Linked DNA regions of Homo sapiens. The protein of the gene in region 1 interacts with the protein of each later gene in a biochemical or structural test. Each region holds a gene or a part of one and is shown on either strand. Other genes may lie near its edges.

Region 1 (5,106 bases):
AAGTGCTGAGGACCTCAGAGGAAGGGAGAGCCTCTGATGATGGGATTCTCAGGCAGATGTTTCTTCCAGGCCCTCTCTTTTACAGATGGGGCAACTGAGGCACGGAGAAGGACAGCCCAGGCTTACACAGGCATCATGCAAAGGTGGAGGAATCCCAGGCTCATTGGAACTGCCTGGAGCTCTGCCCCGTGTAGGGAGCTGCTGCTGGTCAGGAGGAGGAGGCTGCCTGACTGCCCTGCTCTCTAGCAGGCAGATACCCCCACTGGGGAGCAGGGAGAAGAGGCTTTGAAGTTAGGCGCACAGGCAGACAGCCTCCCCAGGAACGGGCTCGTCCCAGGGGATGGGGTTGCTGTGGAATAGGACTGAGGGGCTGGGACAGCCCCCTTCCCAGCAAGTGGGCCCCAGACCCTGGCCCAGGAGGAGGAGGTGCTGCCCACTCTGTGTCTCCAGCTTTCTGCCTTTGCCTGTCTCCCTATTTTTTTTGCTGTTCTTAGTCTGTCCACCCCTCCAGCTGGGGGGATCTCTCCTCCCCACCCGGCTTTGTCTCTGTCTCTCCTCTCCCTCTAGCCTTCCCTACCATTCTGCTTTTAGGTCACTCTCAGGGAGTGACAGTCTTTCCAGGGGTCTCCTCACTTCCCCACAGGATATGCTGTGCTTCTCCTACAGGGGTGCACTGTGAGGTCAGTCTCCTTCAGGGAACTCCATCCCTTCTCCATGCCACACCACACCCACCTCCTTGGGGAAACAGCTTCTACCCTGGGTGAAGCCAGACGTGTGCATGTGTGTGTGTGAGGGCTGGAGGGGGCCCCTAAATCCTACCCCCTGCCTGGATGATTCTGACCTCAGACCTACATTCCCTGTGTCCGGGACTGCAACAAAACTTGCAGAAAACAGAGGTCCCCAAAGCAAAGTCTGTGGGAGTACGCAGCAGGGCCAAAGCCCAGCCTTCTGTTGGGTCACACTGTCATCTTCCAGGGAGAAACAGCCATGGTGCTCACAGAAGCAGAGGATGGTGAAAACTCAACCACAAATTGCCAGATTTGGGACCCCAAACGAGGCTTCAGAAATAGGGAGGCTTCAGGCAGCTGGAACCCACAGTCCAGACATCCCAGAGACAGCAGGCACCCAGGATCCTGGATCAGAGGGGACTCTCACCCAAAGTTCGAACTACTGGGGGAACTCAAGACTGCGTGCCTTAGACCTATCCCGCGGACCCTAGGGTAAGCCCGCAGCCTGTCCCGGAGTGTTGGCGGCGGGGGACTCACCAGCGCGTACGCGGAGCTGAGCACGGGGCAGCAGAGCAGGAGCGCCAGGCCGGGTGCGATCCGGGCGGTCCCCATCGCCACCGCCTAGGGCCGCGTCCCTCGGGGCAGCCGCCGCCGCCGGCCCTGGTGGTGGTAGGGGGTGCAGAGCTGCGTCAGGCTGGCCGCCCCGCCCACGCCCCGGCCTATGGGACCCCGGCGTCCCGGCGGCCCGAGGCCCCGGGGCCCGGCGCGGGGCCCATGCGCTGAGGGCGAGCGAGCGAGCGAGCGAGCGAGCAGCGCAAAGGAGGGAGGGAGGGAGGGACAGGAGGGAGGGAGGGAGAGCCGGAGGCCGGGCGGGCGGCGGGCGGGCGCCGAGCGCTGCGGAGCGGCCCGTCTGCCTCGGAGCGAAGAAATCACATCCATATGGCCGGGCCCCCCGCCCCCGGCCCGCCCCCCGCCCCCCTCCCGCGCCGCCTTTTCTTTCTTTCTTTCTTTCTTTCTTTCTTTTTTTTTCTTTTGGGGAAATGGGAGCTGTGGCTTCGCCCCACGCCCAGTGGGGGGAGGGGGCGGGGGAGGGGTCGGGGTCGCGGTCTGCGGGGGGCGCGCAGGACTGTTATTTTTAGCTCCGCGACTTTCGGCGTAGGGAGTCAGGGCCGGGCAGGGGGCGCGTTCTGAGCCGCGCGGGGCGTGCAGTTAGGGGGTGCGATCTCAACTTTGCAGCCACACTGAGCCCTTAGGTGTTCCGGCCGCCAGCCCCCGGCCGTTCGGCCTCCTGAGATCCCAGACCCTCGGCAGCCGCCTCCCGCACCCCTTCCCCATCCTTGGCCAGAGCCCCGCTTGCGCCTGTGCGGCTCGGGCGCGCAGCGGCCCCGACGCTCTGTCGGTCTGCCTGTCTGTCAGTCCGTCTCTAGCTCCCCCGGCCTTGGCCTCAGTTCTTCCAGCGGCCCCAAGCTCCGTTTCGGTCACTCCCTCGCTCCCTCCCTCCCCCTTTTCTCTCTACGAAAACATTTGCAAGTTTCCAAAAAAGCCACCGAGCCGAGCGGCGCGGGGCTGGCGACTCCCCCGGGTTCCGAGGAGGCGCCGCCGACTGACACCGAGACAGAGCAGCCTGGCTGCTCCGGCCAGGCCCGGAGTCGCTCCTCCCCGACTCCGGCCACTTCCCCTCGGCGCGGGTCCCCAGCCCCGACTTACTCCGAGCGCGCCGCCGCGGCCCCCGCCTTGCCATGGATGTCGGGGCCCCCCCGACAGCCTCCCCAAGCCAGCGCCCCGTCCGCGGCCCCGGGGGGACTTCATGGAGCTCTCGGGATACCCCCCGCTGGCCGGCCTGGCCTCCAGCGCCCCCCGCCCGGCCGCCGCTCGGAGCCACCGCCCGCCGCGCGCATCCCTCGCCTCGGCGTCTGCCGCTCCCCTTCTCCCCGGCCGGGCGCCTCTTCCCTCCCCCGCGCCCTCCCGGGCCTCTCCCGCCCCCACCCCCTCCGCAGCCGCCGACGCGGGAGTGTGGAGAGGCCGAGAGGAGCCTTCCGCCCCCCGCCCCGGGACATTGCGCTAGAGGCCGAGGCCCGGAGTCTTACGGCGGCGGGATGTGAGTGCTGGGGAGACGGGGCGGGGGCAGCTGTAACATCGAGACCCGAGCAGGGAACCCGGGACGCCGCCGCCGCTTCATTCTCTTCTGGAAAGCACGGGCTTTTAAATTTTTTTTCCCTTGATCATCCGGCCCCCGCTGGCGAATAGAGACCCTGAGCCGAGAAGCGAGCCCTCTTTCATCATGGGCGAATCCCCTGAGGAGGCTGCCCGGTACCCCCGCGCGCCCCCGGCCGCGACGCTGTCAGTCCACTGGGCTCCCGTTCGGGCCGGGTCGGGGTCCCTGGGGAGGCCGCTCGGCTGCCAGCCCCGAGCCCGGCTTGGCTGCTGCCGCCCTCCCCCACGTCCAGCCCCACCCTCGCCTCGTCCCCTGCCCTCAGTCCCATCCCAGGCCTGTCGTTCCTCTCGGCCCTAGGCCAGCCCCGACCCCCGCCCAGGTCTGCAGCCACACATCCCGCTCCCTCCCTGCCCAGCGTCTCTTCGGGTCCGGGTCTCCGAGTCTCGACCCATTCAGCTGCTGGCCGGGCCTCTCCAGCTTGCCCAGCCCCAACCCCGGAGGCTCGAGGCTGCCAGACCTGGGGCTCAATCCAGACACCCACTCTCAGGCTTCACCTCCCTCCCCCGTTCCCACCCCCACTCCCAAAAGCTATCGGCCGGCTCGGACCGGGCCGCCTGGGACCCTCGACTTAGGGGAAGGCAAGGAGGAGTCCGCGGGGGTTGGGGCTGAACGGGGCGGGATTTCTGTGTTTGGCTGGGGAGGGCACGCTGGAGCTCTAAGAGGAGGGGCCCTTCGACCCCAAACCTACCACCTCCCGGTACCAAGTGGGGAAACTGAGGCAGAGGGAGGGGCTGGGGATGCCTGGAGCGCAGGGCTTTAAGGATCGCGGAGGAAGCGAATGCATGAGGCCCTGGGAAATGAGTCTGGGCTAAGCAACAGCCTGTGCTTGCCCGCTTACCAGTTGTGTGTCCTGGACACTACCACTCTTCGGCTGTCTGGACCTCAGTTTCCTCATCTGCAAAATGGAGAGGTTGGCCAGCTGATTCAAGGGCAATGTTAACTTTACTGTTTAGTTTCCACGAGGGTGGGCATCCTGGCCCATGGGCTCCAGGGGCTCTCAAGACTCAGCCTGTGGATATTGAGCTCCTCGGAGCCTGCAAACCTGCCCTCCAACCCTCAGTGCAAATCTGTCAAGCCCAAGTCCTAAGGCCTAGGATCCAGCTGCAGCCACCCTTCTGCTGGCTCAAGCCCATCCAGCTTCCAGACTGCACTCCCAGGTGCATTCCCCATGTATTTCTTCTGCTGCTACTTTCTTCTTCTTTCTTCTCCTTCTCCTTCTTCTTCTTCTTCAAGACAAAGTCTCACTTTGTCACCCAGGCTGGAGTCCAGTGGCATGATCTCTGCTCACTGCAACCTCCGCTTCCCAGGCTCAAGTGATTCTCCCAAGTAGCTGGGACTACAGGTGTGTACCACCAACCTGGCTAATTTTTGCATTTCTTGGTAGAGACGGGGTTTCACCATGTTGACCAGGCTGGTCACGAACCCCTGACCTCAAGTGATCCACCTGCCTCAGCCTCCCAAAGTGCTGGGATTACAGGTATGAACCACCAGCCTTGGCCCTCCCCATGCATTTCTATGGCTGCCTCCCTTCTCTGTGCCCACTGCCCTCATTTCTTTTTCTGGTGTTCAAGGGCTGTGCTATTTGAGACAGTTTCCTCCAAAAATGACTCTCCCTAACAGGAACTGTCTGCTAGACTCCTGGTCTTCTTCACACATCCACTCTCCTGCCTTTGTCCTTGCTGCTTCCTCTGCCAGGATCATACTCTTCTGCCTGGTGTAAAGGACACTCCCCTCCCTCCTTGTGTGCCCACATCCTCCGTTACTGGGGAGGGAGGTTGTGATTTCAGGGCTGCCTCCTATGGTATGTAGCCTCCTTGGGACGGAGGCCCAGGTGCCAGAATGGGCACCTAAAGAACACTTGTGGTTCTTCAGTGTTATATTTTAATGGTCTCAGCTTTATTATGCCTCTGTTTCTTTTCTTTTTTGAGACAGGGCTGTTGGCCAGGCTGGAGTGCAGTGGTGCGATCTCGGCTGACTGCAACCTCCACCTCCCGGGTTCAAGCAATTCTCTGGCCTCAGCCTCCTGAGTAGCTGGCATTATAGTTGTGCACCACCACGCCTGGCTAATTTTTGCATTTGTAGTGGAGATGGGGTTTCTCCATGTTGGCCAGGCTGGTTTCAAACTCCTGGCCTCAAGTGATCCTGTCTCGGCCTCCCAAAGTG
Region 2 (3,500 bases), on another chromosome or scaffold:
TGAGTAGGGCTGAGCAAATGCGGCAAAATCAATGCACATATGACAAGATTCAGTGGCCCAAAGAAGGGAGCTAAATGAGGAATCAAAGCAAATACCCCATATGGAATTGCTGTAAAAAATCAGAGAAAACCTGAAAGTAGTGGTTTTCAAGCATGACCCACTAGTGGATTGAAAATCAACTTAGCGGGTTGGAACCAACTTCCTTTTTCTAAAACAAAAAAAGAATAGCATACATCAGATTGCATCAGGTTCTTAGCAAAATCATATTTTATATTATCTTTTTCATACCAAAGATATTTTATATTATTTTTATTATACCGTAGTAAAGGTATTGTTTCATGAAAGTTTTTAGTTATATATATTTATTTATTTATGTATACATATAAATCTTATGTGTATGTGATCCATGTACTATGATGTAAAATGTAAATTATTATGGTAAGTCAAGATTTTTTTAATTTTTAAAATTCTTTAAAAATTATTTTTATTTATTTATCTATTTATTTTTTGAAACAGGGTCTCACTCTGTTGCCCAGGCTGGAGTTCAGCAGTGCAATCCCGGCTCACTGCAGCCTTGACTCCGTGAGCTCAGGTGATTCTCCCCCTTCAGCCTCCCGAGTAGCTGGGACTACAGGCACACGCCACCACACCTGGATAATTTTTTGTATTTTTATTAGAGATGGGGTTTTGCCATGTTGGCCAGGCTGGTCTCAAACTCTTGAGCTCGAGTGATCTGCTCGCCTCAACCTCCCAAAGTGCTGGAATTAAAGTCGTGAGCCACCATGCCTAGCCTAGGTCAAGATTTTAAAAGTTTCATAAATAGTCCTGTAGAACACTGGGTGGAGTTTGGAATGGTGAAAATGTGTCAGGAGAGTATTGTAACTGAAATATTCCTGATCTTCTCTTTCAAAAAGATGGCCTTCTTCCCATTATCCAAGGCAAGGATTTCAGGCCTGAGTCAGCCATAAGCTCATCTGTCTTTTTTTCTGTACTTACCTCCTCATAAATGGATTAAGAGAGCCTCGAGCAATGGTGAGGGTTGGAGAAGGTGGACAGGTGGCCCAGTCTTATGCGCTTTCCCTCTCTTCCTTCCTTCTCCTCATCCTCCAAGGATGGTTGTAGCCAACTCCAGCCAAAGTGCAGATGCCAGAGAATCCTGCAGCAGTTGCTGAGAACACAGGATACCTGTCACATTTACTGAAGCAGTGGCAGGACAATGCATCCCCTGCATTGAGCTAGTTGTCAGAAGCAGAAAATAAAAAGTGTGTGTGTGTCTCTGTGTGTGTGTGTGTGTATGTGTGGTGAAAAAGAGAAATATATCTAAAAATAATCTTAAAAGACATGATATGTAATTTCTTACCAAAACTCAAGCCAAAGCAATCACACATACACCCACACACATGCACGCACACACCCCCATCCACACACACACACACAGAAGTAAATGACAGCAGTTGGACCATCAAAATCTGAAAAATTCTTTCAGGCCAAAGACTCCATAATGCTCTATAGCTGTTATTTTGCATTTCTTTGAATCTCCTCTCAGTTCTATTTAGAGATCACGAAATGTCTAATTTAATGGCCCTGCCCTTAGTTCTCCAGGAAGGAGATCTTAGTTGTTCATCCACGAACAACTTTTTGAGCCACTTTCCTACTTCTATTTCTTCCAGTAGGCAGATCATATTTTGGGTTTCTTTGTTTTAAGTTTGTGGTTTTTGTTTTTCCCTCTTTTTCTTTTTAGGTTGTAGTTAAGTGGTGTATACAAATTTATTAGCAATTTATTATATTGCCACTTTGTATTTTAATCTTTAATATTAAATTTTGTGTTTGGTAAAAATGCTGTAATTAGTAAAATGTAGAGTAATCAGTTTTTACCCATTCTCTGCTCTTCAATAACAGCTTGTTGAGTATTCTCTCTGATTTATTCTAGCATCAGACACACACACGCGCACACACTGTGCTGCAGCATGTTTTGTTTTCCAATTCTATGTAGCACAAAAAGACTTAACCTCATTCTTCTCCATATCTCAACAGTATTCCATGTATCTTGATGATCACTTACAATATAAGGCAAGTAAGCATAGGCAATTCATCAGATTTGAACCAGAGATGGGGTTACTAAGTGAACTATTAGTTCCCCAGAAGAATTAGCCCAAGCAAAGGTGTTGTACAGTATGTAAAATGTCTTTTCCTACTTTATACATTTTATCTGGCCAGAGAACACCTTTAAACATTAAATGCAATCATCCTTAGTCATTCAACAAATATTTACTGAGCAATTGATAGAGGCCATTCGCCAAGCTAGGCCTCATGGATCAACTCGAAATATGACAGACAGACTCTGCCCTCAGGGAGCTTAGAGTTCAGTAGACATGACCAGTGGTGACACAAGCCACTGGAGTAGCATCAGATGAGTGCTTTGGTAGTGGAAGAACCTGTTCTCAGAGCACAGACAGCTTTGGGGGTCTGTATTGGTTTGTGGTTTCATTTTAAAGAAGTGTTATCCAAAAATAGGGTTTGAAGAGTGATGAAAATTTAGCATCATCAAGGACTATAGAAAATTTGGAAGGCATATCTCCTAATGCTATCCCTCCCCCCTCCCTACACCCACAACAGTCCCCAGTGTGTGATGTTCCCCTTCCTGTGTCCATGTGTTCTCATTGTTCAATTCCACCTATGAGTGAGAACATGCAGTGTTTGGTTTTTTGTCCTTGCAATAGTTTGCTGAGAATGATGGTTTCCAGTTTCATCCATGTCCCTACAAAGGACATGAACTCATCATTTTTTATGGCTGCATAGTATTCCATGGTGTATATGTGCCACATTTTCTTAATCCAGTCTATCATTGTTGGACATTTAGGTTGGTTCCAAGTCTTTGCTATTGTGAATAGTGCCCCAATAAACATACGTGTGCATGTGTCTTTATAGCAGCATGATTTATAATCTTTTGGGTATATACCCAGTAATGGGATGGCTGGGTCAAATGGTATTCCTAGTTCTAGATCCCTGAGGAATCGCCACACTGACTTCCACAATGGTTGAACTAGTTTACAGTCCCACCAACAGTGTAAAAGTGTTCCTATTTCTCCACATCCTCTCCAGCACCTGTTGTTTCCTGACTTTTTAATGATCACCATTCTAACTGGTGTGAGATGATATCTCATTGTGGTTTTGATTTGCATTTCTCTGATGGCCAGTGATGATGAGCACTTTTTCATGTGTCTGTTGGCTGCGTAAATGTCTTCTTTTGAGAAGTGTCTGTTCATATCCTTCACCCACTTTTTGATGGGGTTGTTTTTTTCTTGTAAATTTGTTTGAGTTCATTGTAGATTCTGGATATTAGCCCTTTGTCAGATGAGTAGGTTGCAAAAATTTTCTCCCATTCTGTCAGTTGCCTGTTCACTCTGATGGTAGTTTCTTTTGCTGTGCAGAAGCTCTTTAGTTTAATTAGATCCCATTGGTCAATTTTGTCTTTTGTTGCCATTGCTTTTGGTGTTTTA

Evidence for each region. The genes of interacting proteins can lie anywhere in the genome.
Region 2: the proteins of PTH1R (region 1) and IL16 interact in a test that uses a peptide from one of them, tested with the Homo sapiens proteins (one large-scale study listed by IntAct).

The regions. Positions count from the first base shown.
Region 1 is NC_000003.12:46,879,794-46,884,899, reverse strand, and holds part of PTH1R (parathyroid hormone/parathyroid hormone-related peptide receptor precursor), read right to left. Parts: intron 3,839-5,106; coding exon of another isoform or gene 3,782-3,838; intron 2,906-3,781; exon of another isoform or gene 2,718-2,905; intron 2,652-2,717; exon of another isoform or gene 2,436-2,651; intron 1,389-2,435; 5' UTR 1,341-1,388; coding exon 1,266-1,340; intron 1-1,265.
Region 2 is NC_000015.10:81,199,879-81,203,378, forward strand, and holds part of IL16 (pro-interleukin-16), read left to right. Parts: intron 1-522; exon of another isoform or gene 523-592; intron 593-3,500. UniProt on the Homo sapiens protein: Interleukin-16 stimulates a migratory response in CD4+ lymphocytes, monocytes, and eosinophils. Primes CD4+ T-cells for IL-2 and IL-15 responsiveness. Also induces T-lymphocyte expression of interleukin 2 receptor. Ligand for CD4.